7 linked regions of the Homo sapiens genome follow. The protein of the gene in region 3 purifies or fractionates together with the protein of the main gene of each other region. This does not show direct contact. Each region holds a gene or a part of one and is shown on either strand. Other genes may lie near its edges.

Region 1 (3,500 bases), on a different chromosome or scaffold from region 3:
TACATCTCTAGAACACCCACAAATCACACAATTTTATGTTTTAACTGAAAGGGACCTTAAAATATCTTGCCTAGCATAGAAAGAAAATATCAGAATTCAGGAGATCTCAGGTGTTGTGATAGTCCTGTATTTAAAATGTTAGTGAACAAAGCACATCACATAATTTTTGAAATATTTAATTTTATCATCTATAAAAAGAAGATGTATTAAGTAATCTGGAACAAGCTTTACAATTTTAACTGCCTTTACTGCACATGGCACCTCACTAAACTGGCCTAGAAAAGCTGAAGAGTAAGTTTTTTTTTCATTGGCACTAGCATTTCTCAAACATTTCTTCTCACCACATAAGCTTCTGTGGATGAGATAGGATACTGTAGGTTATGTGTAACTTCCATTCCCACTGCTTTTCTCTACCATTCGAAAAGAAATTAATTCCCACAGGGATGTCTTGTTGAGGATCTCACTGATCTATGCCATGCAGCTACCTCTAACCATACATACATTTTTATAAAGTGTAAGAAAAAAATGACAAAATATTTTTTGACATCTTTCTACTACCTGCATTTCAATATACCGAAGGTCATTTTTTTTCTTTTGTAAATCTTCCAATAATTTTTGGTCTAAAGTTCCATCTGGTTCATTTTCTTGCAAGAGATACTCAGAATCTCGGTCAATATATGATCTGTTCCTGATTCTAAACATTTTTTTTTCTTGATTTATCAACTTCTTTTCCTGGATGTCAAGTTTGTTCTCTGAGCATGGTGTGTTCTTAGTAGAAACTTCAGTACCGTATCTGTTTTGACAAAATAAGAAAGGAAGAAAGGTCAGATGAGCCACTCAAACACTGGAACAAAACAAAACAAAACAATACGCTGTTGAAATATTTCAAAGTCATCCAAATCCAAAGCTTTTCTTTTCTCTTAGTACAGTAATTATGAAAATATACTTAGATTCTTATAATAAATTCAAATTTTTCTTCCCTTTAAATAGATATTGCCAGATTAAGTTATTCCTTGTGATAGTTAAAAATAAAAATCCACAGAATAGTCATTCCTTCACTGCGGTTACTTACAGTGTTTCTCTTTTTCTGGATTTCTCGAACTTGTTTTATGTCACAACATCTTTTTTTCTTGCCACCCTTTCTGAGCTACAAATAGGATGCTACAATACACAGTCTTTGAAATACTTGTACTAATTTTTCCTCTAAATGATACAGTTCTTGTAATCTTTCTAAAACGGTAGCAATTTCACTTCTTGCAGATCTCCCAGACAGAATAATTTCATAAATACAAAGAGGACAGGTAGGGAGAACAATAAATAACAACTTAATACATCTCATATCCAGATACACTATTATTCATACCATTTAGCTTTCCTATGGAAACATGCCATCTAAATTTTTAAAAGTCATTTTCTAAATCTGTTTAATCTACATAAGGAAAAAAAGTACGTAAAGGTTAAAATTCACTTATCGAAGAAAATAAAGATGTTATTTTTATTATTAAAGTGTTACTCTTTGCCTATTCTTTAAAAAAATATTTCTTGTCGTACCCATGATCCTCAGGAGCAAACCAGGATATCTGTGCTTCTGACTCTTTATCATTCTTCGCTTGAACAGAATTCAGTAACTGTACAATTTGTTCTTCTCGTCGTTCATCCATGTGTACTACAGCTCTCTAGTTTGTGCAAAGAAAAAAGCATCCTTGTCAACATAAGAAAGCATATGCAAAAATTATTTGATACTGAAGAAAATAAAGGCTAAGTAATATATGTTCAACAAATACATATAAAAGAAAGTTATCCACAGGTGTCCTCTAGCCCAATACCCCCCTTCCTAGACCTAATTAATTGTTAAAATTTTCGTACATATCCTTCTAGACCTTTTCCAACAAGCATTTATAAAATTAGCCCTAATATGATTGGCAAAGAAAGCTCATTTATGTCTCTTCCTACAACTCTGGTTCTCTTACCCCAAACCCTCACATACTAATTATTATGAATTTCTCCTTATCTTAAAATTTCAAAGTTATTAAAACTCAAATGGTTTACGAAAAAAGTTGAAAACTGGAAATAGTTTGGTTGTAATGAACATTTGAAAGTTCTTACACTAAACAGAAGAATAAATTGGTAAGTAAGGCTGAGCTCAGAAGGAGTAAATAAAATTCATCAGTGCTTATAAGGTGATCCAATGTGGCAAATGACGCAGTTGCTTCAAAGAATGAGAATAAAACACAACAGACTGGACAAATATAAAGGTCCTTGGTGAACTATGAAACTTTGCAGAAACTTTACGCATCTAAGAAATGTCCAAGGTGAAAAAAAAAAAAAGAGAATGAATGCCAAAACCCAATTCTTTGGAGACTTTTATATTTAGATATAGTAAGTTGAAAAGTTGAAAAACAGATTCTTCAAAATTTATGGGACTACAAACCTTAGGTTCTAACGTGCATATAAATCCACAGGCAAAAGGAAACACACGCGGAGTGGTGAAAATTAGAGTGTGTTAGGTTAAAGAACCAAAGGAGGAGGAAGGTAAAAGTATAAATGGAAAGAAAACAGTCAAAAATCGAAAGAAAGAAACCACAGGACTTAATGACTATTTGGTGGAAGTTGGGGAGAGACAAAAAGGAAGAAAGAATCAAAGAACTGTTTTCAAATTCAAGGGTGGATCCTGAGAGAGCAGCAGTAAGATGAATCATTAAAAGGAAGCTGCTCTGTGTTACTGTACATTTTTGTGTACATGTGGTGGTGATGGAGGTCACAATAGGATGCTAAGTTTGGATTTTAGGCAATTAAGAACAAAGATGAAATTTCCCGACTTGTAATAATGACTAGGTAGATGAATATATGGAAATTGATCTCTGAGAGGTTTTGTTTTTAGAGTTATGATAGAAATTTTGGAGTGTTCTGCAAAGTTGAAATCACAGAGACACAGGAATTCTCTTAATTTACAAATAATACCACCTCCAAAGATGAGGACAGACGGATGACCAAGTCTGGCATTCACGGGGCCAAGGCAAGAAAATAAGTCAGAGGAGTAATCAAGAGAACAAACAAAAGACTAGGAGCACACAGTGAGAAAACCACTCCTATGAAGTGAAGAAAGGTGTTAAAAAAGGACTCAGAAGTATAAAATGGACGTAAGTAAGGCAGAGAACTGAAAAAATTACTACTGTATCCAACAACTAGGCAGTTGGGAATGATCTTCAAGGTATTTTTGGTTTTTGAGGTTTGGTTTTGATTTTTGGGGAAAAAAGAGGGAAGCAGGAGCTAGGGTAAGGAGACTGATGAAAGCAGACAGCAATGTGTAAAATACTGTAAAATCTAGAGCAATAGATTTCAATTGTTTATTTTTTATAGCAATCCACAGTAAAACTAATGACCCAGTACACACATATACAAGTAATTTCACAAAATACTTCCCTTACTCTGTACAGTGCAACTCTTATCTTCTCTTCACTGTATTCTATCCCAATTAAACAAACACCAAAATAGCTGGT
Region 2 (3,500 bases), on a different chromosome or scaffold from region 3:
AGGGGAAAGGGGGGAAGAAAATATATATTAAAAAAAAAAAAAAAAAGAAAGAAAATGGGGAAGTCTATAATAATTGATATTACTTCTTTGCTATTCCAAAAAAAAGTGTGCATCTAAACTCAGATCTCCCTCAAATATTTATTTGATAACAATTCATTTGGCCACAGTTTAAGACATTAATTCATTTCCTGACTACAGTTGCAAAAAAAAAGAAAAAGAAAAAGAAACAAAAAGAAAAAAAAGATGAAAGGAATGGGAATGGGGGAAAAAAAAGAAAAAAAAGGGGGAATGAATAAAAGTAGTTAGCTTGGTTAAGTCTGCTAAGACAATGAATGCCTGGATATACAGTTATGGGTCCAGAGGCATTTTAAGACATGGTTCAGAGACAGATTCTTGATCTGTTGGCTGTTAACACTGTACTAACCTTCATGTCTTGTTCAGCCTTCAACGCAGCCTGGGCCTGATTACCTCTGACTCCAGATAGTGATCCACAAGGACCCCTGGCTACATGTGGCAAACGAGCATGGCTCATGAGGCCTGTGGTCAGCGGAGGAGGCATCTGACTGGCCAGTGCCATTGGTGGCCTCTGAACAGGCGCTGGGAAGGTGTTAGTATGTGGGGCTCTTACCAATGGAGGGACCAGGTTAGGCTGGGAGAGAATCTGAGTGAAAAAAACAAAACATACAACATTGAACTGTTAAAAAAAAAAAAAAAAAAAAAACTGCCAACTAGACCAGGTTGGCTCATCCCAGAGTAAATCTGTGCCCATCCTACCAGTGAAAGGAAGTGTACAGATTGTGCCATTCCATTAACAAGGACAAGGAATAAACAGGCCATGCTTGGAGAGTTTAACAGAAAAACTAGGCAAAGCATGCTATGGCACTTCAGTTGGTCCTAGCATCTCAGTTGTAAATTCTGAAGGGGGGATAGAAAGACTTTTAATTAGGCTATCTTTTCAAAAGGTAGTTGCAGAAAAGGCACACACCTGTAACAAATGTAATCTGAAGATAAATAAAATCAATACTAATTCAACAAATGTGAATTTCTCAGGAACCAGTTCTAGTTTGTGAGAGTTCTTAGTCCTTTTATACGATCAGCAAGGGGAAGAGAAGCCAACATTTTTTACATATATTAAAACATCTTTTTGGAAATTTTATCTCAATTGCACATAAATATCTTAACAACAACAAAAAACAACTTTAAACCTAGAAAACTTCAAGCACTGGGACCCTTCGCTGAAAAGTCAACTCCTTAAAAAAAGTTAAAAGGAAAAGGACTCATTATCAGAGCTGTGTGGGGAATCTTTTAACTATTTCTCTTGTCTGCTTTAGAACTAAACAATTACCATGTCTGGCTATAAATCGCAGACTATCTTTATAAAATAAATTTATTGTTAAATTCAGAAACAATTTTTTATTAAAAACTGTACTTCTTAACTGGTTAACATAAGGCAAGATAATAATTTATCAGATTAGCAACTATTTTTAAGTAAATAATACTCATTTCTTAATTATGTCTGCCCACCTGGGGTGCAAACTGTGTAGGAAATGGTTGTGTCATTCTCACAGTGGCAGGGGCTGACTGGAACTGCTTCTGGTAGACAATGCTGTTCATTTTGCTGGACTGGCTGTTCGGACTTGTAGAAGTAGCCCTTGGAAAGAAGCCATTACTAGTCAGTATAGTAATACCAAGTAAATAATGCTGTTAGATTTTTGCAAACACCGTTCTTGGTATTTTCATCATACTTGGTAGTTGGTAAAAATTTACTATGATGATTACCAAAACATTCTGGTAGAAGAGAGACATTGGAGGAGCAGAGGTAAGAAAGGATACCAGTTACCAGTTAGATTGGCTGGTTCGAGACCAGCTTGGACAATATTTTTTTAAAAATTAGCCAGGTGTGGTGGCACGTGTATGTAGTCCCAGCTACTCAGGAGGCTGAGGCAGGAGGCTTGCTTGAGCCCAGGTGTTTGAGGTTGCAGTGAGCTATAATCATGGCACTGCACTCTAGTCTGGGTAACAGTGTGAGACTCTGTCTCAAAAAAAATAAAAGAAAAAAAGGTTTGCTCTGTAACAAAAGAATTTACTTAAAATATAGTACAATAAACACATTTTAAATAATTTAAAAGCTTAACATTTTAGACAAAACTATCAAAAAGAATGTCTTAATAATTCCTTTTCTGCTTGGAAAAGGGATTATGTCACACAGGACTGATAAGTATTTAACAAATAGTGACCAAATTGGAATTTCATAAGCAAATTTAAATGCCCATTTTACCGGAAGGGACTAGATGTTGGTGTGGTGCTTCTACCAGCGATTGGAGGTGTGCCTGGTTTTATATCAATGCCACTTCCAAAGGCTTTTAGTTCCATTTCAGACATCTGAGGAGAAGCATAAAATAAACTTAACATTTCTTTAATTCCACAAGCTAAGTGCTGTGTTTACATGTCCTATACGTGAAGACGTAATCTAGGAAAGGGCAAAGAACCTTAGTACAAAACTCCTATAGTTAGGCTTCAAGTATTATGGAATTACCTGACCAAACAGACTTATAATTAAATAAGCCCAAGAGACACTATAAATCCAATTCTTCCAATAAATTTGTGAATTCTTTGTTATTAGGTAAAAACTAGATGGGGCCAAACACATTAAAAGTAAATAGATAAAATGTAAATATACTGGGGTTTGAGATTTTTGCAGGGTGGTAAAAACTGACGCATTTTAGTTTTTTAGATAACACAGATGCATATATCTGAACACACTACCTTAAATTCTCAAATAACCTGTGCAAATGTCTCTTTACTTACTTTTCCTGTGGTTGCAATCATGCTATGCTGTGTTCCAGCAGGAATTAATCCTCTGAAAGGCTGGCTTACTTGTGCAGGACGACTCAGACTCTGAGCCTGTGCTTGGGGAGTGGTATGCTGTAATGGGGGCTGAAGAGTCTGAGGCAAAGCAATTAGAGGTTGCCCTGTAGATCCAAAATTAGGCAAGGAAAGCTGCGATGCTGGTAAAGGTACTGTAACCTAGAAAATAAGTAAAGAGAAACTGAAGCAATTTGTTTCTGTTTACTACAGACATATCCATACAACTATACACAACTCTTCAAATACTTTTGAGTAAGATTTCAAACAGAACACATCGGCCAGGTGCAGTGGCTCATGCCTGTAATCCCAGCACTTTGGAAGGCCAAGGCGGGCAGATCACGAGGTCAAGAGATCGAGACCATCCTGGCCAACATGGTGAAACCCTGTCTCTACTAAAAAAAAAAAATACGAAAATTAGCTGCATGTGGTGGCATGTGCCTGTAGTCTCAGCTACTTGGGAGGCTGAGGCATGAGAATCACTTGGACCCAGGAGGGGGAGGTTGCAGTGAGCCGAGATCCTGCCACTGCACTCCAGCCTGGCGACAGAGCGAGACTCTGTCTCAAAATAAAATAAAATAAAATAAAATAAAATAAAATAAAATAAAATAAAATAAAATACATAGAACACATCC
Region 3 (3,500 bases):
ACTGTGGCGGTGCATGCCTATAATCCCAGCTACTCATGAGGCTGAGGCAGTTGAATCACTTGAACCCAGGAGGTGGAGGTTGCAGTGAGCCAAGATTTTGCCACTGCACTCCAGCCTGGGTGACAGAGCCAGACTCCATCTCGAAAAAAGAGAGTCACATCACCTAATTAAGTGTCTCAGAGTTAAGACACAGTGCCCCTCATGGGTAGGGCCCAGGAAGAAGTGTGAAGTCACATATAACCTTTGAGCTAGGCCCAGCAATGTGTCAAAATCACTCCAGTGGGTAGGGCCCAGGCCTAAGAAAAGAGTCATATCACGTAGGTGCTTGGCCAAGCAATACGTCACAATCCCCACTGTGGACAGGTCCCAGGGAGAAGAGAGTCACACAGTCTCAGCGATGGACCCAGATATATGTTACAGTGACTTCTGGGAGTCAGCAGAAGAATCAAATCACCTGTATGCTAAACTCAGGAATAAGTCATTCTCTCTTCTGTGGGCAAGGCCCGGCTGAAGAGGAGAGTTACATCACCTTGGTGCTGGGCCCAAATATATGTCACAATCTCTTTTTGGGCAACGTTCAGGTAAGAGAGAAGAGTCACATAAAATAGTTAAAGGGGGCCAAGCACAATGGCTCACACCTGTAATCCCATCACTTTAAGAGGTTGAGGCGGGCGGATTGGCTGAGGTCAGGAGTTTGAGAACAGCCTGGCCAACATGGTGAAACCCTGTCTCTACTAAATATAGAAAAATTAGATGGGCCTGGTGGTGTGTACCTGTAATCCCAGCTACTAGGGAGGCTGAGGCAGGAGAATCGCTTGAACCTGCGAGGTGAAGGTTGTAGTGAGCCAAGATTGTACCACTGCACTCCAGCCTGGGCAAAAGAACGAGACTCTTTCTCAAAAAAAAAGAAAAAAAAAAAAAAAAAGCTTAAATATCTGTCCTTTTCAGACAATAAACATGTCATTTAAATATTTCCATGAGAGATAATTTAATAAACAACCATATGTGAACATTTCTAGAAAGTGTCAAGTTCCATGTCATAAAATTTTGCATTAAACTTGGATATCTAGACAACAGAATACAGAACAGAGATATCCACCATTACAAATTCTAGACTTTGAAAAAAAGAGGAGCTGATGGTTTGAGAAATATATACAATGCACCAATTAATCTATCATATTTGCTTGTGGAAATGTATTCACTTTGTATAGCCATAATGGAAAAAAGATTTTTCCTATTTCTCTTCTCTGGTAGCATTCTCAAAGCAAACCCCTGGGGTTCTATTTAAAATTACACAACCAGAAAAAAACATAAATTTAACAAATAAAACATATCACTAGATTTTTCTGAAATATACCTTTCATAGTCGTTGACTTTTTAAACATCTTTTAAGCTCTTCTGATGAAATGTAATTTACAGTTATTAAAAAACTGAAATTGGGCCGGGCGTGGTGGCTCACGCTTGTAATCCCAGCACTTTGGGAAGCTGAGGTGGGCAGATCATAAGGTCAGGAGTTCCAGACCAGCCTGGCCAACACAGTGAAACCCCGTCTCTACTAAAAATAGAAAAATTAGCTGGGCATGCTGGTGGGCGCCTGTAATCCCAGCTACTCAGGAGGCTGAGGCAGGAGAACAGCTTGAACCCGGGAGGCGGAGGTTGTGGTGAGCCAAGATTGTACCACTGCACTCCAGCCTGGGCGACAGAGCTAGACTCTGTCTCAAAAAAAAAAAAAAAAAAAAAAACTGAAATTGAAATAAGTGAAAAAATCTTTCCAAGGTGACAAACTCAGGAAGTGGCAGTGCTGATTGGGACACAAACATGTCTGACTCCACTGTCAAGTCAGACCATAATATCACTCAAAATATTCTGTCATCCCCATCCTGCCTATTAAATTACTCAGTGACCACCTTCCCAGGAGACACTTTGTACCCCACTGTGAGTCTCAGGTACATTTTGCTTGCAGGTTCTTGCATTGCCTTACTGGGATGGGATCTTCTTGTCCTTTGGAAAAAATTTTATTTCAAGAATCCAGAGAACAAAAATCATTTCTGCCTTTTCTCATCAATGCGAACATTTGATTGTCTCATCACCAATGTGTCTACTAAAAATAAAAATCAGGTTGAGAGGCCAGGCGTGGTGGCTCACACCTGTAATCCCTGCACTTTGAGAGCCCCAGGCAGATGGACCACCTGAGGTCATGAGTTAGAGACCAGCCTGGCAAACATAATGAAACCCCGTATGTACTAAAAATACAAAAAATTAGGCCGGGCACCGTGGTTCACGCCTGTAACCCCAAATCTTTGGGAGGGCGAGGCAGGTGGATAATCTGAGGTCAGGAGTTCGAGAACAGCCTGGGCAACATGGCGAAACCCCGTCTCTACTAAAAATACAATTAGCTGGGCGTGGTGGCACGCACCTGTCTACTCAGGAGGCTGAGGCAGGAGAATGGTTTGAAACCGGGAGGCAGAGGTTTCAGTGAGCCGAGATCATGCCACCGCACTCCAGCCTGGATGACAGAGCAAGACTCTGTCTCCCAAAAACACAAAACAAACAAGCAAACAAACAAAAATTCAAAAAATTAGCCGGCCTTGATAGCAGGCGCTTGTAATCCCAGCTACTCAGGACGCTGAGGTAGGAGAATTGGTTGAACCCAGGAGGTGAAGATTGTAGTGAGCCAAGATAACGACACTGCACTCCAGCCTGGGTAACAAGAGCGAAACTCCGTCTCAAAAAAAAAAAAAAAAACATTTGGCCCGGCACGGTGGCTCAGGCCTGTAATCCCAGCACTTTGGGAGGCCGAGGCGGGCGGATCACGAGGTCAGGAGATCAAGACCATCCTGGCTAACACGGTGAAACCCTGTCTCTACTAAATATACAAAAAATTAGCCGGGCAAGGTGGTGGGCGCCTGTAGTCCCAGCTACTCGGAAGGCTGAGGCAGGAGAATGGCGTGAACCCGGGAGGCGGAGCTTGCAGTGAGCCGGGGAGATCGCGCCACTGCCCTCCAGCCTGGGTGACAGAGCAAGACTCTGTCTCAAAAAAAAAAAAAAAAAATTAGCTTGAGAAAAAACTTCTTAACTGTTTACACACTTGTTCATTTTTATCTCATTGGGGGAAGACCTCTCAATATATTTCAGAGTCAAGAGGTAAAATTTTTTTAAAATAATTTTTTAAAGGGTACACTCTGAGGCTGGGCACAGTGGCTCATGCCTATAATCCCAGCTACTCGGGAGGCTGCGGTGGGAGAATCACTCGAACCTGGGAAGTGGAGGTTGTAGTGAGCCGAGACTGCACCACTGCACTCTAGCCTGGGAAAGAGAGTGAGACTCCATCTCAAAAAAAAAAAAAAAAAAAAAAAAAAAGGAAATGAAATATCCGCACCAGCAACATTAATACAAAAAGTTCTATTAAACAATGACACCCACTCAAATGTCACCTCTTCTATAAAGCCCTCCTTGATATTCCCACTGCTATGTTAGTGGCAGAATTGATCACTATTACC
Region 4 (3,500 bases), on a different chromosome or scaffold from region 3:
TATTTCTGGACACAGTTTAAATTTCGTATGATTTCCATGCGCTACAAGGTCGTTCCAACTATTTTAAATTGTAAAAACCATTGTTAGGCCAGGCACAGTGGCTCATGCCTGTAATCCCAGCACTTGTGGGAGGCACATCACCTGAGGTCAGGAGTTTGAGACCAGTCTGGCCAACATGGTGAAACCCCATCTCTACTAAAAATACAAAATTAGCTGGGTGTGGTGGTGGGCGCCTGTAATCCCAGCTACTCAGGAGGCTGAGGCATAAGATTCCCATGAACCCAGGAGGTGGAGGTTGCACTGAGCTGAGATCACACCACTGCACTCCAGCCTGGCACAGAGCGAGACTCTGTCTCAAAAAAAAAAAAAAAATCATTGTTACATTACAGGTTGTACTGATTTTTGAAAAAAGTGCAAAAGCAATTCAATGGAAGATTAATCTTTTCAACAAAAGGTGCTAGAGCAACTGGATATCCTTAGGCAAGAAGAAAAAAAATGGCGACCTAAACCTCACACCTGTACAAAATTAACTCAAATGGATGACAGATTAAAATACAAAAGTTAAAATTATAAAACTTTTAGAAGAAAACAAAGGAGAAAATCTTTGGGATCTAGGACTTGGTATGTTAGATATGATGCCAAAAACATGATCCATTAAAGAAAAAAAAAAACTTAGTAAATTGGATATCAACAAAATTTAAAATTTTTGCTCTGTGAAGTATCCCACTGAGAAGGTAGAAAGGACCAGGCACAGTGGCTCCTGTCTGTAATCCCAACACTTTGGTAGGCCAAGGCGGGAGGATCACTTAAGCCCAGGAGTTTGAGACCAGCCTGGACAACACAGAGAGACCCTGCCTCTATCAAAAAAAAAAAAAAAAAAAAAAACATTAGCCAGGTGTGGTGGTGCACACGTGTGGTCTCAGCTACTCAGGAGGTTGAGGTGGGAGGATCACTTGAGCCCCAGAGGTTGAGGCTAGAGTGAGCCATGATCACATCACTGTGCTGCAGCCTGGGTAACTGAGTGAGACCCTCCCCAAAAAAACAAAAACAAACAGGCTGGGCGTGGTGGCTCATGCCTGTAATCCCAGCACTTTGGGAGACCAAGGCGGGCGGATCACCTGAGGTCAGGAGTTCAAGACCAGCCTGACCAATATGGCGAAACCCCGTCTCTACTGAAAAACACAAAAATTAGCCGGGCATGGTGGCAGATGCCTGTAATCACAGCTACTCGGGAGGCTGACATAGGAGAATCGCCTGAACCCAAGAGGTGGAGGTTGCAGTGAGCCAGGATCGTGCTACTACACTCCAGCCTGGGTGACAAAGTGAGAATCCATCTCAAAAAAAAAAAAAAACAACCAAAATAAAAACAAGCAAACAAACAAAAAGGATGGAAAGACAAGCAACAGATTGGGAGAAAATATGTGCAAACCATACAAAGAAGCTGCACCTGTGATCTACAAAAAATTATCAAAACCCAGTAATAAAAAATATACAATTCAAGGGCCGGGCGCAGTGGCTCACGCCTGAAATCCCAGCACTTTGGGAGGCTGAGGCGGGTGGATCACCTGAGGTCAGGAGTTCGAGAACAGCCTGGCCAACACAGTGAAACCCCGTCTCTACTAAAAATATAAAAAAGTAGCTGGGTGTGGTGGCAGGCACCTGTAATCCCAGCGATTCGGGAGGCTGAGGCAGGAGAATCGCTTGAACCCGGGAGGCAGAGGTTGCAGTGAGCCGAGATTGCACCATTGCTCTCCAGCCTGGGCAACAAGAGTGAAATTCTGTCTCAAAAAAAAAAATTATATATATATATATATGTATATGTATACACACACACACACACACACACACACAAAATTCAATTAGAAAATAGGCAAAAGGTATAAAGAGACATTTTACTGACCAGGATATATAGACAGCAAATGATGATATGAAAAGATGTGTATTATCACTAGCCATTTGGGAAATGCAAATTAAGATCATGATGATGTATCACCACACGTCTATTAAAATTGCTAAAATAAAAATAGTGACAATACCAGATACTGGCAAGAATGTGGAGAAAATGGATTTCTCTTACACCGCTGACAGGAATGTAAAATGGTACCGACACTCCAGAAAATACTTTGGCAGTATCTTAAAAAACAAACAAACAAAATAAATATATATAGTCATCCTTGGTATCCATGGAGGATTGGTTCCAGAGCCTCCCAGGGCAACAAAATCCAAGATGATCAAGTCCTTCATATAAAATGGCATAATAATTGCTTATAACCTATGCACATCCTCCCCTATATTTTAAATCATCTCCAGATTATTTATACCTAATACAATGTACATGCTATATAAATAATTGTTATACTGTATTGTTTAGGGAACAGTGACAAGAAAAAAAAAGTCTGCACAAGTCCAGTACAGACAATGTTTTTTTGAAAATATTTTCAATCCCAGGTTGGCTGAATCCATTGATGTGGAACCCATGGATACAGAGGGCTAATTGTATTTACCATACGACCAAAGAAATGAAAAGTTACATGCACACAAAAACCTGAACACCAATTTTCATAGAAGCTCTATCTATAATAGCCAAAAACTAGAAATAATCAAAATGTCCTTTCTTATACGGGAATGATTCAATAGGTGAACCATGGTACATCCATACCATGGAACACTATTCGGCAATGAAAAAGAGGGATGGATCTCAGGGACATCACACTGAGTGAAAAAGGGCAATCTCCAAAGATCACATACTGTATGATTCAACTTATATAATAGTCTCAAAATGACAAAACAGGTTAGTGGCTGCCAGAGGACAGGGACAGTAGAGAGACAGAGGGAGTGCCTAAGGCTGTAAAGGGTTTGTGGTGGTGGAACAGTTCTGTATCTTGATTGTAGTGGTGGTTACACTAATCTACATATGATAAAATAGCATATAACTACATATACATTGTACCAATGTCAATTTCCTGGTGTTGATATTATACAATAGTTATGTAAGATGTAGCCACTGAGGGAAACTGGTAAAAGGTAAGGACTTGACTATGTTTGCAATTTCCTGTGAATCATTAATTATCTAAAAAAAAAAAACAGTTAAAATAGTTTCCAAAAATCTGAGGATAAGCGAAGGAAGGACATAGCTTTGTAAGTAACAAGAATCTGCCCACTCTCCTTATTAATCTTAGAGTTGTTTTAGGGACCATGCATAATAAAATAATAAAGGCCGGTTTTAAGTAAGTGCCTACAATGAGCCAGGCACTGCTGTAAGTACTTTCACACAATGCCCTATTTAATCCACACAAGTTCCTTATAAATGAAATACCACAACCCCATTTTATAGACAGGAAAAGTGCAGTTGAGAGAGGGTAAAGCAATTTGTTCAGGCTCACACAGTAAGTGTTAGAGCCATGATTTAAACTCAGATTAATACCAGAGGCATGCCTCCTGCATACCACTGTAACAATAAAGATGTTCAGAGGACAAAAAAGATATCAGTCAAACTATGT
Region 5 (3,500 bases), on a different chromosome or scaffold from region 3:
TGATTTATATAATTGTAACAAAAACAAAGTCCAAATATGAGTTGAGTTTCAGTTAACATTTTGTAATGGAAATACATTTAGAGAGAATTTTATTTTTCTTTTAGTTGTGTAAAAAACAGTTTCAGTACAGTGCCTCTTTGCGAGCACATCTTATTCGTCATACCAGAAAAGATGCACCCTCTTCATCCTCGTCCAATTCCACGTCTAATGAAGCATCGGGAACATCATCTGAGAAGGGCAGAACCAAGCGGGAATTTATATGTTCCATATGTGGAAGAACATTACCTAAATTATATTCTCTCCGAATACATATGTTAAAGCACACAGGTGTAAAGCCACATGCATGCCAGGTAAAGCTATAACGTTTATTTTGCTATTTAAAGAACATTAGAACTTAACTATGTGTGCCAAAGAGACTGGTGGGATATGTATTCTCAAGTCACTCTCATTTGTAAAATGTCAGGTAAATTTATGACTTCTTTATTGCCTAGATCAAAGGTGATTCCCTATGGTGTTTTTTAATTTGCTCTCTGAAGTTGTAATTTGAATCTATTTAAGATGTTTGTGAAAACTTACTAGGGTCCAGAGGATGTATAGGGTGAAAAATAACCAGTTTATCATCCCAGTCATTCCTTAACCTTCAACTGGACCAACCAGGACTAGAAAGGAACCCATGGCTTAAACAAATCTCTGTGGTCCGTAAAAGTCCTGCCTAAGCTGTGTTCTTCTCTAGAGCTAAGGATTGAGAGTACCTAAATGCCAAAATAAGACTCAAGGGTAGTGAATCCTGTGATTAGCCAGCTTTGGGCTATTTGAAACAGTGAAAAATTTCTAGTAGCACCTGTAGCCTTATATATGAGTATGACTCAGTTTGGGTTTTTTTGTCTGTTTTGAGACAAGGTCTTGTTCTATCTCTCAGGCTGGAATGTAGTAGCATGATCACAGCTCACTGCAGCCTCCATCTCCCAGAGGATTAAACCATCCTCCCACCTTAGCCTCCCAAGTAGCTGGGACTACAGATGTGCACCACCACGCCTGGCTAATTTTTTTAAATTTTGTGGAGATGGGGCCTAACTATGTTGCCCAGGCTGGCCTCAAACTCCTGGGCTCAAGTAGTCTTCCTACGTCAGGCTCCCAAAGTACTGGAATTATAGGCGTGAGCCACTATGCCAGGCCTGACTTAGTATTTTTATTAAAAAACAGTTTTGGAACCAATGAGATTTTTTTTCTTTCTGTATTTTAATAGTTTTTGGGGAACAGGTGGTGTTTGTTTACATGGGTAAGTTTTTTAGTAGTGTTTTCCAAATTTTGGTGTACCCATTACTTAAGCAGTATACACTATACCCAGGGTGTAGTCTTTTATGCCTCACCCCCAACTCACCCTTTCCCACAAGTCCCCAAAGTCCGTTGTATCATTCATAGCTCAGCTCCCAATTATGAGTGAGAACATACGATGTTTGGTTTTCCATTCCTAAGTTACTTCATTTAGAGTAGTGGTCTCCGGTCATTTGAACCTGGGAGGTGGTGGTTGCCGTGAGCCGAGGTGGCACCACTGCATTCCAGCCTGGACAACAAGAGCAAAATTCCATCTCAAAAAAATTAATTAATTGGCCGGGTACAGTGTGGCTCACACCTGTAATCCCAGCACTTTGGGAGGCCGAGGCAGGCGGATCACAAGGTCAGGAGATCGAGACCATCCTGGCTAACAATCCTGGCCATCTCTACTAAAAATACAAAAAATTAGCCAGGCATGGTGGCACACACCTGTAATCCCAGCTACTTGGGAGGCTGAGGCAGGAGAATTGCTTGAACCCGGGAGGCAGAGGTTGCAGTGAGCCGAGACCGCACCACTGCACTCTAGCCTGGGCGACAGAGTGAGACTCCGTCTCAAAAAAAAAAAAAAAATTAATTTTTAAAAGAGGTAGTGGTCTCCGGTTCCATCCAGGTTGCTGCAAATGCCATTATTTTGTTCATTTTTATGACTGAGTGGTATTCCATGGTATATTTATACCACATTTTCTTTATCTGCTCATTGATTTATGGGCATTTGGGCTGGTTTCATATTTTTGCAACTGAATTGTGCTGTTGTAAACATGCATGTGCAAGTATCTTTTTCATATATCAGATTTTTTAAAGACAGGGTCTTTCTTATTACCCAGGCCGGAATACAGTGGCATTATCTTAACTCAGTAAACTCGAACTCCTGGTTTCAAGCAATCCTCCTGCATCAGCTACCCGAGTAGCTAGGACTTCAGGTGTATGCCACCACACCCACCTAATTTTTTTTTTTTAAGTTTTTATAGAGACCCTGCCTTTTTATAGATCTTGCTATATTGCCCAGACTGGTCTTGAACTCCTGGTCTCAAGCTGTTCTCCCACCTGGGCCTCCCAAAGTGCTGGGATTATAGGCATAAGCCACTGTGCCTGGCCTCCAGTGAGGTTTTTTATATTTCTCTTTTTTGTTCCTTTTTATTATTTTAGAAGAGAATGGGTTGAACTCTCATGTACCCTTCACTCAACTTCAGTAGTTACCAGCTCGTGGTACATGTGTTTTATGTATACTGTTATTTACTACCCTACTCCCACCTCCACCCCCACCCTGCCAGGTTTTTGTTTTTTTTTTTTGGAGGCAGGGTCTCACTCTGTTTCCGCAGGCTGGAGTGCAGTGGCGCCATCTCAGTTCACTGCAACCTCCACCTCCCAGGTTCAAGCAATTCTCCTGCCTCAGCCTCCCGAGTAGCTGGAACTACAGGCACACGCCACCACGCCTGGCTAATTTTTTGTATTTTAGTAGAGACAGGGTTTCACCATGTTGCCCAGGCCAGTCTCGAACTCCTGAGCTCAGACAATCCAACCACCTCAGCCTCCCAAAGTGTTGGGGTTACAGGCATGAGTCACTTTGCCCAGCTCCGCCAGTTATTTTGAAGCCAAGTCCTTCCTAAGGATCACTTTATTTGTAAATTTATGGGTTTTTTGTTTTTTTTTTTTTTTTGAGACTGATTCTTGCTCTGTCACTGAGGCTGGAGTGCAGTAGCACGATCTTGGCTCACTGCAACCTCTGCCTCCTGGGTTCAAGTGATTCTCCTACCTCAGCCTCCCGAGTAGTTGGGATTACAGATGCCTGTCACCACACCTGGCTAATTTTTGTATTTTTTTTTTTAAGTAGAAACAGGGTTTCACCATGTTGACCAGGCTGGTCACGAACTCCTGACCTCAAATGATCCGCCCGTCTCAGCCTCCCAAAGTGCTGGGATTACCAGCATGAACCACCACACCCGGCCATAAATTTAAATACCAAGTATTAGTTGGGCCTCTGGTCTTCCCATGTGGCACTACTCAATATGTGTGGTCTGTGGACAATAAGTACAGAAATAGAGAGTAAGCATGTAGAAACTGTCATAGCAATTTGGCATTGTCACGTCATTTTTAACAAAAATTTTTGTGTTTAACAAAAATTTCTCCCAGTGGATTGTGGAAAAGGAAAAAAAAATAATTAGTTC
Region 6 (2,968 bases), on a different chromosome or scaffold from region 3:
GCTTCTGTTGCTTCTAGATTCACTTCTCCATCATACCTGTCCTCTGCAGCTGATTGTGGATAGTGCTCTACAGCCTACATTAAACCTTTGTTCAGATGACATGAGATCATTTCCCAAAGGGGAAGGAAGGCACAGGCATGAAAATGCTACTGTTTTATGAAATGACAGGGCAATGGGAGAAGGAAATCAAGAGCCCAAAGAGTGAGGACCTCTGCTGTAGACAGCTGCTTGTGAGGGGGTTGGCTGGCTCTGTCCTCTTCACAGCCTGCAGGCCAGTGCTTGCTCACCAGCCCATGTGGACAAGCTGGCCTGGCCTTCACACAGGCCTGGGCCACGGCAAGAGCACAGCAGGATCAGCTCAGGCAGTGCCTGAACAGGAAGGGCCTGGGGAGGAGCCAGGTCCTGCTTCATACCAGTGAAAACCGGAAGGGCTTTGCAAATGGTTAGGGGTTTGTCTTTTCACACTATGGAACCCTCAAATATCTGTCATCGATGCAAAGGAAGGTTCTCAAGAATTTTATTATAAAACAGAACAATGACACAATATAAGCTTACACATTAATATTTACATTATATTCAAAATATATTACAGCTTTAATTTATGAACAGAAATATCCTGTCTTTTCTTCTTTTTCTTTTCTGTTTTCTTTGCATCATTGATTTGCATTTTTACTTGATCTTGTAATTTAGAAAAGAATGCTTGAGAGGACTTTAAGGCCTTGTCTTTACCTTCATCCTGCAATTAAAAACACCACATGCTTATGCTGTAAAATGTACTTATAAGTGAAAAAAGCCAAAAATAGTACATCACCATTACAACAATGTATGCAACCATAAATATGAAAAAGGACTAGAATTACAGAAAACTGAATCAGTTAGCATAGAGGTATTCTGCACTGCTACAATGTTCTTATAATCTAAGAGAGAAAGGAGTGGAAGACAAGCTGCTGCCAGGACCCAGGTTATTGTGAGGACCCTACATGAAAAATTCTAGAACATTAAAGGTTGCGATTCCAGCCAGTCAGCATCATGCATCTCTATCCCGCAGGTGGGCTGTCAGCTGGCTCAGACATTCCAGTCACCCAGCACTTGCTATCCACTTCCCCCACAAAGGTCCCCTTGAGCAGTTTTCTTTCCCTTGTCCTTACCTTTATGAAGGAAGCTTTGCCAGTTTTGGTCAGCTGTTTTAACTTCTCCGAAGCTACTGTTTTGCTGTATTTCCCTGCTTGATCTACACTGCTCTTTTCAAGCAGTTTTCTCCGCTTCTCCTTCTCTTTTATTTTCATACGCTTTTGATATTTCTTTTTCCTTCGCTCTCGTTTCTTGTCTGTAGCTGTTTTTTCAGCAGCTGTTTTTATATCTCCAGCTTTATTTTTCTCCTATTAAAAAAATAACCACCAACATATTCATTCATCAAGTTTAACAACTAGGAAACTGGAATGGAAGAAACTGCAGGGTAGCCAGCAAGCAGGCTGTGCATCTGTGGCCAAATGCACAAAGATGCAGAGCAATCCCCACCTGCATTCCAATGAGCGTTGGTAACTCAGCTCTTTAAAACCTGAAATGCATTCTTTGACAGGCACAGACTCTTATAGTGACGGTTCAGTTCCCAAACTAATTCACAAGAAGGCAACATGGAGAGTTGGGTTCTCAACCTAACAGCACAAGAGGAGCCAGCCCTCCACAGCATTTAGATTCCAATGGGCTTCAGGGACATGCCAGAGGCAGCCTCAGCTCTGAGCTGCTAATGACAGCAACTGGACTGAGGCCAGAGGGCAGAGACCAAGGAACAGAGGAAGGGAAGGGAAACATCTCTCTAGTGAGGATCAATTCTATCTCTTTTCTCCTCAGCTGCCAGCCTATCCTGCCAGGGCTGTCACCTGCACTGAGGTGGCAGAGGCTCAGACAGAAGGGGTGAGTGTAGGTGTAGCAAATCAAGTGAGGAGGGAAAAAGAAGGCCCTGCTGCTAAGCCAGCCAGGAAGATGAGCACCTGGCAGAAACCATTATTACTGTGTAAGGCATAAGCTTCAATGTTCACATGGCAGGGATTGCTGCATTTGATATATCTAGCCTCTTCTGATAACCAAATGCTCGATTCTAGATTCAGATTCCATTACTAATTAGCATTACATGAATAAAATAAGGGGGAAATGCTGACACTAAACTATTGCTAGTATATATGCAATGCAAGCCATTTGTTTTCAACTTAACATCACTGCTAGTATTCAGATTGGATTATAATAAGATATTGATACTAGCTATTTTAAAACTGCTCTTACAGTAACTCTCAAACCTGTACCTCATAATAAAGCCAGAATATAGGAGACTGGTATTTGAATATTATAACATTACTAGTTTGCTTATACTTAGAAACTGCTGAGATACATTGGAATAAGAACTACAAGTGCAAGGCAAATGACGTCAAATAAATGGAGTCTGGCTATGATCAACTAACTTGTAACAGACATTTAAGGTTTCAACATTGGCTTCTTACCTTGATCTCCTCTGGGGCCAGGAGAGCTGCATCACTAACACTCACTGGGGCTACTTCCTCCATGGTTATGGCTGGCAGATTTGACACAACTTTAATCTCTGGTACAGGCTAGAAAAGAGATAATACATTCAATGGGAAGCCAGAAGGGACTCTAACACAAAATGTGTGAACTGTGAACCTATTAACTTAAAGTATAATATATAAAATACTTTATGGAGATTATCTTTTTTTCACTTGCTTGAAAGTCAGCAAACCTAATGGAGACTATTTAAAATGTTAGATATGGTGACAGCCAAAGTCCTAAGTGGACTGGCATGACGGCAGTGCTGAGGGGCAGCACTGCTTCAGGATCCCAGAGACCTGGGTATTTTAGGGTTTTCTGTCTCAAAACCATTCCAACAGCATGTATTTCTTTTTCTTTTTTTTTTTCTTTTGAGACAGAGCCTTGCTCTGTTGCCCAGGCTGGAGTGCAC
Region 7 (3,238 bases), on a different chromosome or scaffold from region 3:
GGGGGGAAGGGGAGGGAGAGCAATAGGGCAAATACCCGATGCATACGGGGCTTAAAACCTAGATGATGGGTTGATAGGTGCAGCAAACCACCATGGCACATGTGTACCTATGTAACAAACCTGCACGTTCTGCACATGTATCCCAGAACTTAAGGTAAAAAAAAAAAAAAAAAAAAAAAAGAAACCTAAGTTAGTAAGAAATTAAGTCTCTACCCAGGGATATGTAGTAGAAAGTGGTAGGATTGGGGTTTGAACCCAGGCAGTTTTGACTCTATCATGTAGCTTCTTAATGATTATATTATACTGTCCCCCAAGTTGTATACTAATTGCTTCTATTATGTTTCCAGTTTTATATAGACCCATATAAGCTGCTGCCACTGCAGAGGTTTTTACCTCGACCTCCAGGTGAGAAAGGACCTCCAAGAGGTGGTGGCAGGGGAGGCCGAGGAGGAGGAAGAGGAGGAGGTGGCAGAGGTGGTGGCAGAGGCGGTAAGTTACTTGGGGAAAATTTCTAATGAAATTAACTGTGACTTTCACAGCTAATTCATACAATACAATTTAGCTTTGTACATAGCAAACCTCCCTTATGGTTCTTTTTATTAAAGCTGCTTTCCAATATTGGCAGATTGTCCATAATAATAATGCTTCATTTCAACAACTTACTTAAAAAGAAGAAAATCTACTAAAGTATACTTTTGAGGGACTTCATTTCTTTGGGTTATTCATGTTTTCTTGGACATTTTAATAAACCGTAAGATTATCTTAATTTTAATTCCTTAGTTAATATTATTGAGTGTAGACTGCATGCTGAAAGCTGGTCATACATTCTTTTAATTTCCATGTATATATTTTTAATACTCAGCGAAACCTTTTGAGATAGATGATATCCTTATTTTATGAATGAGGAAACGGAGACTTACAGAAATTAATTTGCCCCAATCAAACAATTGGCAGACCCAAGAATTAAAATGCATATCTTCTGATGTCATGTCAAGAACTATTACTAATAAATTCATTACTGTGATCTCACTGTTGTGATGTATGCCTTTCCCCCAAGGTTTTGGGGTATTTTGATGTATGCCTGTTTTGATGTATGCCTTTCCCCTAAGGTTTGGGCACATTCATCATTATGGACAGCTAGGTGATGAGCAGGGCTCTGGGGAGTGGGGCTGCCATGCCCTGTGAGTAGGAGAAGGGCGAGTGATGGGGTGATGGGCAGAGCCAAAGTGGAAAGGGAGAGGAGCTGAAAGTTGGGCTTGGACAGCTTTTGTTACTGGATCAGAAAAAGAGAAGGAACGCCTCACTTTTGGCGTTTCTCAATTTAATCACCATTTCACTCCATAAAGGTATTTTTTTGTGTCCATATAGGTAGGAAAATTCTCAGGGGTACCTTCTTGAGAATTTGATGAACAGAGATTCCCCTATTCTCATGTTATGTTGAGTATCATTTAACATTTCAAAAAATTCACAGCTGTCTTATTTTTTTAAAATCTTACTTATGTAGCTCAGTTAATCTTAACTATCATATTTATTATCTTACCCCCAGAGCAAAAGCACCCATATCTGCCACCCTTTGTTGTTAGGATAAAAAGCCACAGTTCCATCAAACTATCCTTAGTTGAATCAAAAAAGTATTTATCATAAGCAAGAGCTAAGGCAATAGTCATACATTTAACAAGACTGAATCATACTTTAACAAGTTTTTCTAATTTATTGAAATGGAATAATCTGGGGTTTTAGCCTGTTGCCCAGTTGGTAAACTACTACAGTTTCTCCATTTTTATCTTCTAAAATTTTTTCCCTGATAAAATATGTGAATCTATATTTATTCATTATAATTATAGTTATTGTATTGATCTTTTTAGGCTTATCAATATAAGAGGTTATACAGTTAATAACTTAATGATTATTATATTCTATTGTTATTTAAATACTTTGCGTTATTATTTAATAAATGTTTTTTAGGTGGTTTTAGAGGTGGAAGAGGAGGTGGAGGTGGGGGCTTCAGAGGAGGAAGAGGTGGTGGTTTCAGAGGTGAGTATTTTAAAAAGTCTTTAAATTGCTTAATGTTTAAAATTGATATTATCTGGCATTTTCTGTTTTTACTTAAGTTTAATTTTCTCTGCCAGCAAGTATATAGAACACCATGGTGTTCTTTGCTTAGCCTAATTTGTGGTTTCATTTTATATCACTTTTTTTTTGCCTTTTCTTTTCAATTTTTTCACCTAATTCTAATTTGTTTTGCTTTATTATTAATTTGAAAAATAAAGGTGTAATATGAATGACAGTTAAATTTGGTAAAGTATGTTTGCTAAACATTATTGGAACTAATGCTGATTTTAAACTTGAGATTTAGGTTATAATACTATTAAAAATCCATTTTCTGTGCCCTTAATACTTTAATTTTCTCTTAATCAGGGAGAGGACATTAAGTGAAACAGTTGACAGACATCACCAGTTGACTTCTGCATTAACCTGCATGATCTGTTTCTACTATGGATTGGAAACTTGTTTCTTGAACAAGTCTTGAAGATCTTGGTCATTTTATGACAATGGATCTAAAATGTCAGCATCATGCAAAGTGCAACGGAATAGTGAATTTTGCTCTAAAAGAGCATGAACAAGTCTTTCTAATGTTTTGTACAGTGCCTGGCACTCTGTGGGTGCTCAATAAATGGATAGGAGTTTTCATTTGAAGCATATTTGAATTTTTAAAATAAAGTGTTTTATTCCCTTAAGTTATTTAGAGTGTGTTTATTAAATGAAACCCATTTTTTAAAGTAGAAAGGAATAACTAAAGCTTAAACCCAGTGAATTGCAGATCGAAAAAAGGATTTGTTTATTTATATTACTGATCTTTTAAAAAATAGACTACTGTAGCAGTACTTTAAGATAATTTACAAGTTGACACTGCCTTTCAAAACCCTGGCCTTTTATGTATGAGAAGATAGCTTTGTATTTGCCTTTTGTATTTTAATACATAAATCAGTTAAGCTGTTTCTCTAATTGCAATTAATAATTGATTTAAAAATTTTCCATATTAGTAATGTATTAAAGATGCAGTAGCTCTGTTGAAGTGAAAACTATAGCAAGAAATTTCTAAAGTTAATTTTTCTCATCCAACATAAATGGAATATTAGAAGTTTTACTGAATGTTATTTTATTTTTACTTTTTTAAAGGGACTCTAAAAGTTTAAGGTGTTATTTACTACACGTAAATATTCGTGTAGTATACTAC

Evidence for each region.
Region 1: the proteins of RPSA2 (region 3) and DHX36 purify together in Homo sapiens (affinity purification with mass spectrometry; one large-scale study listed by BioGRID and IntAct). This does not show direct contact.
Region 2: the proteins of RPSA2 (region 3) and PRRC2C purify together in Homo sapiens (affinity purification with mass spectrometry; one large-scale study listed by BioGRID and IntAct). This does not show direct contact.
Region 4: the proteins of RPSA2 (region 3) and RSBN1 purify together in Homo sapiens (affinity purification with mass spectrometry; one large-scale study listed by BioGRID and IntAct). This does not show direct contact.
Region 5: the proteins of RPSA2 (region 3) and ZBTB11 purify together in Homo sapiens (affinity purification with mass spectrometry; one large-scale study listed by BioGRID and IntAct). This does not show direct contact.
Region 6: the proteins of RPSA2 (region 3) and MPHOSPH10 purify together in Homo sapiens (affinity purification with mass spectrometry; one large-scale study listed by BioGRID and IntAct). This does not show direct contact.
Region 7: the proteins of RPSA2 (region 3) and GAR1 purify together in Homo sapiens (affinity purification with mass spectrometry; one large-scale study listed by BioGRID and IntAct). This does not show direct contact.

Annotation. Positions count from the first base shown.
Region 1 is NC_000003.12:154,314,488-154,317,987, forward strand, and holds part of DHX36 (ATP-dependent DNA/RNA helicase DHX36), read right to left. Parts: intron 1,677-3,500; coding exon 1,552-1,676; intron 794-1,551; coding exon 559-793; intron 1-558.
Region 2 is NC_000001.11:171,586,530-171,590,029, reverse strand, and holds part of PRRC2C (protein PRRC2C), read right to left. Parts: intron 3,028-3,500; coding exon 2,809-3,027; intron 2,383-2,808; coding exon 2,279-2,382; intron 1,652-2,278; coding exon 1,525-1,651; intron 662-1,524; coding exon 425-661; intron 1-424. UniProt on the Homo sapiens protein: Required for efficient formation of stress granules.
Region 3 is NC_000019.10:23,766,004-23,769,503, reverse strand, and holds part of RPSA2 (small ribosomal subunit protein uS2B), read right to left. Parts: intron 1-3,500. UniProt on the Homo sapiens protein: Required for the assembly and/or stability of the 40S ribosomal subunit. Required for the processing of the 20S rRNA-precursor to mature 18S rRNA in a late step of the maturation of 40S ribosomal subunits. Also functions as a cell surface receptor for laminin.
Region 4 is NC_000001.11:113,805,977-113,809,476, forward strand, and holds part of RSBN1 (lysine-specific demethylase 9), read right to left. Parts: intron 1-3,500. UniProt on the Homo sapiens protein: Histone demethylase that specifically demethylates dimethylated 'Lys-20' of histone H4 (H4K20me2), thereby modulating chromosome architecture.
Region 5 is NC_000003.12:101,656,633-101,660,132, reverse strand, and holds part of ZBTB11 (zinc finger and BTB domain-containing protein 11), read left to right. Parts: intron 1-104; coding exon 105-350; intron 351-3,500. UniProt on the Homo sapiens protein: May be involved in transcriptional regulation.
Region 6 is NC_000002.12:71,147,634-71,150,601, reverse strand, and holds the end of MPHOSPH10 (U3 small nucleolar ribonucleoprotein protein MPP10), read right to left. Parts: intron 2,604-2,968; coding exon 2,496-2,603; intron 1,380-2,495; coding exon 1,149-1,379; intron 737-1,148; coding exon 587-736; 3' UTR 501-586; downstream 1-500. UniProt on the Homo sapiens protein: Component of the 60-80S U3 small nucleolar ribonucleoprotein (U3 snoRNP). Required for the early cleavages during pre-18S ribosomal RNA processing. Part of the small subunit (SSU) processome, first precursor of the small eukaryotic ribosomal subunit.
Region 7 is NC_000004.12:109,822,000-109,825,237, forward strand, and holds the end of GAR1 (H/ACA ribonucleoprotein complex subunit 1), read left to right. Parts: intron 1-347; coding exon 348-489; intron 490-1,965; coding exon 1,966-2,034; intron 2,035-2,418; coding exon 2,419-2,432; 3' UTR 2,433-2,738; downstream 2,739-3,238. UniProt on the Homo sapiens protein: Required for ribosome biogenesis and telomere maintenance. Part of the H/ACA small nucleolar ribonucleoprotein (H/ACA snoRNP) complex, which catalyzes pseudouridylation of rRNA.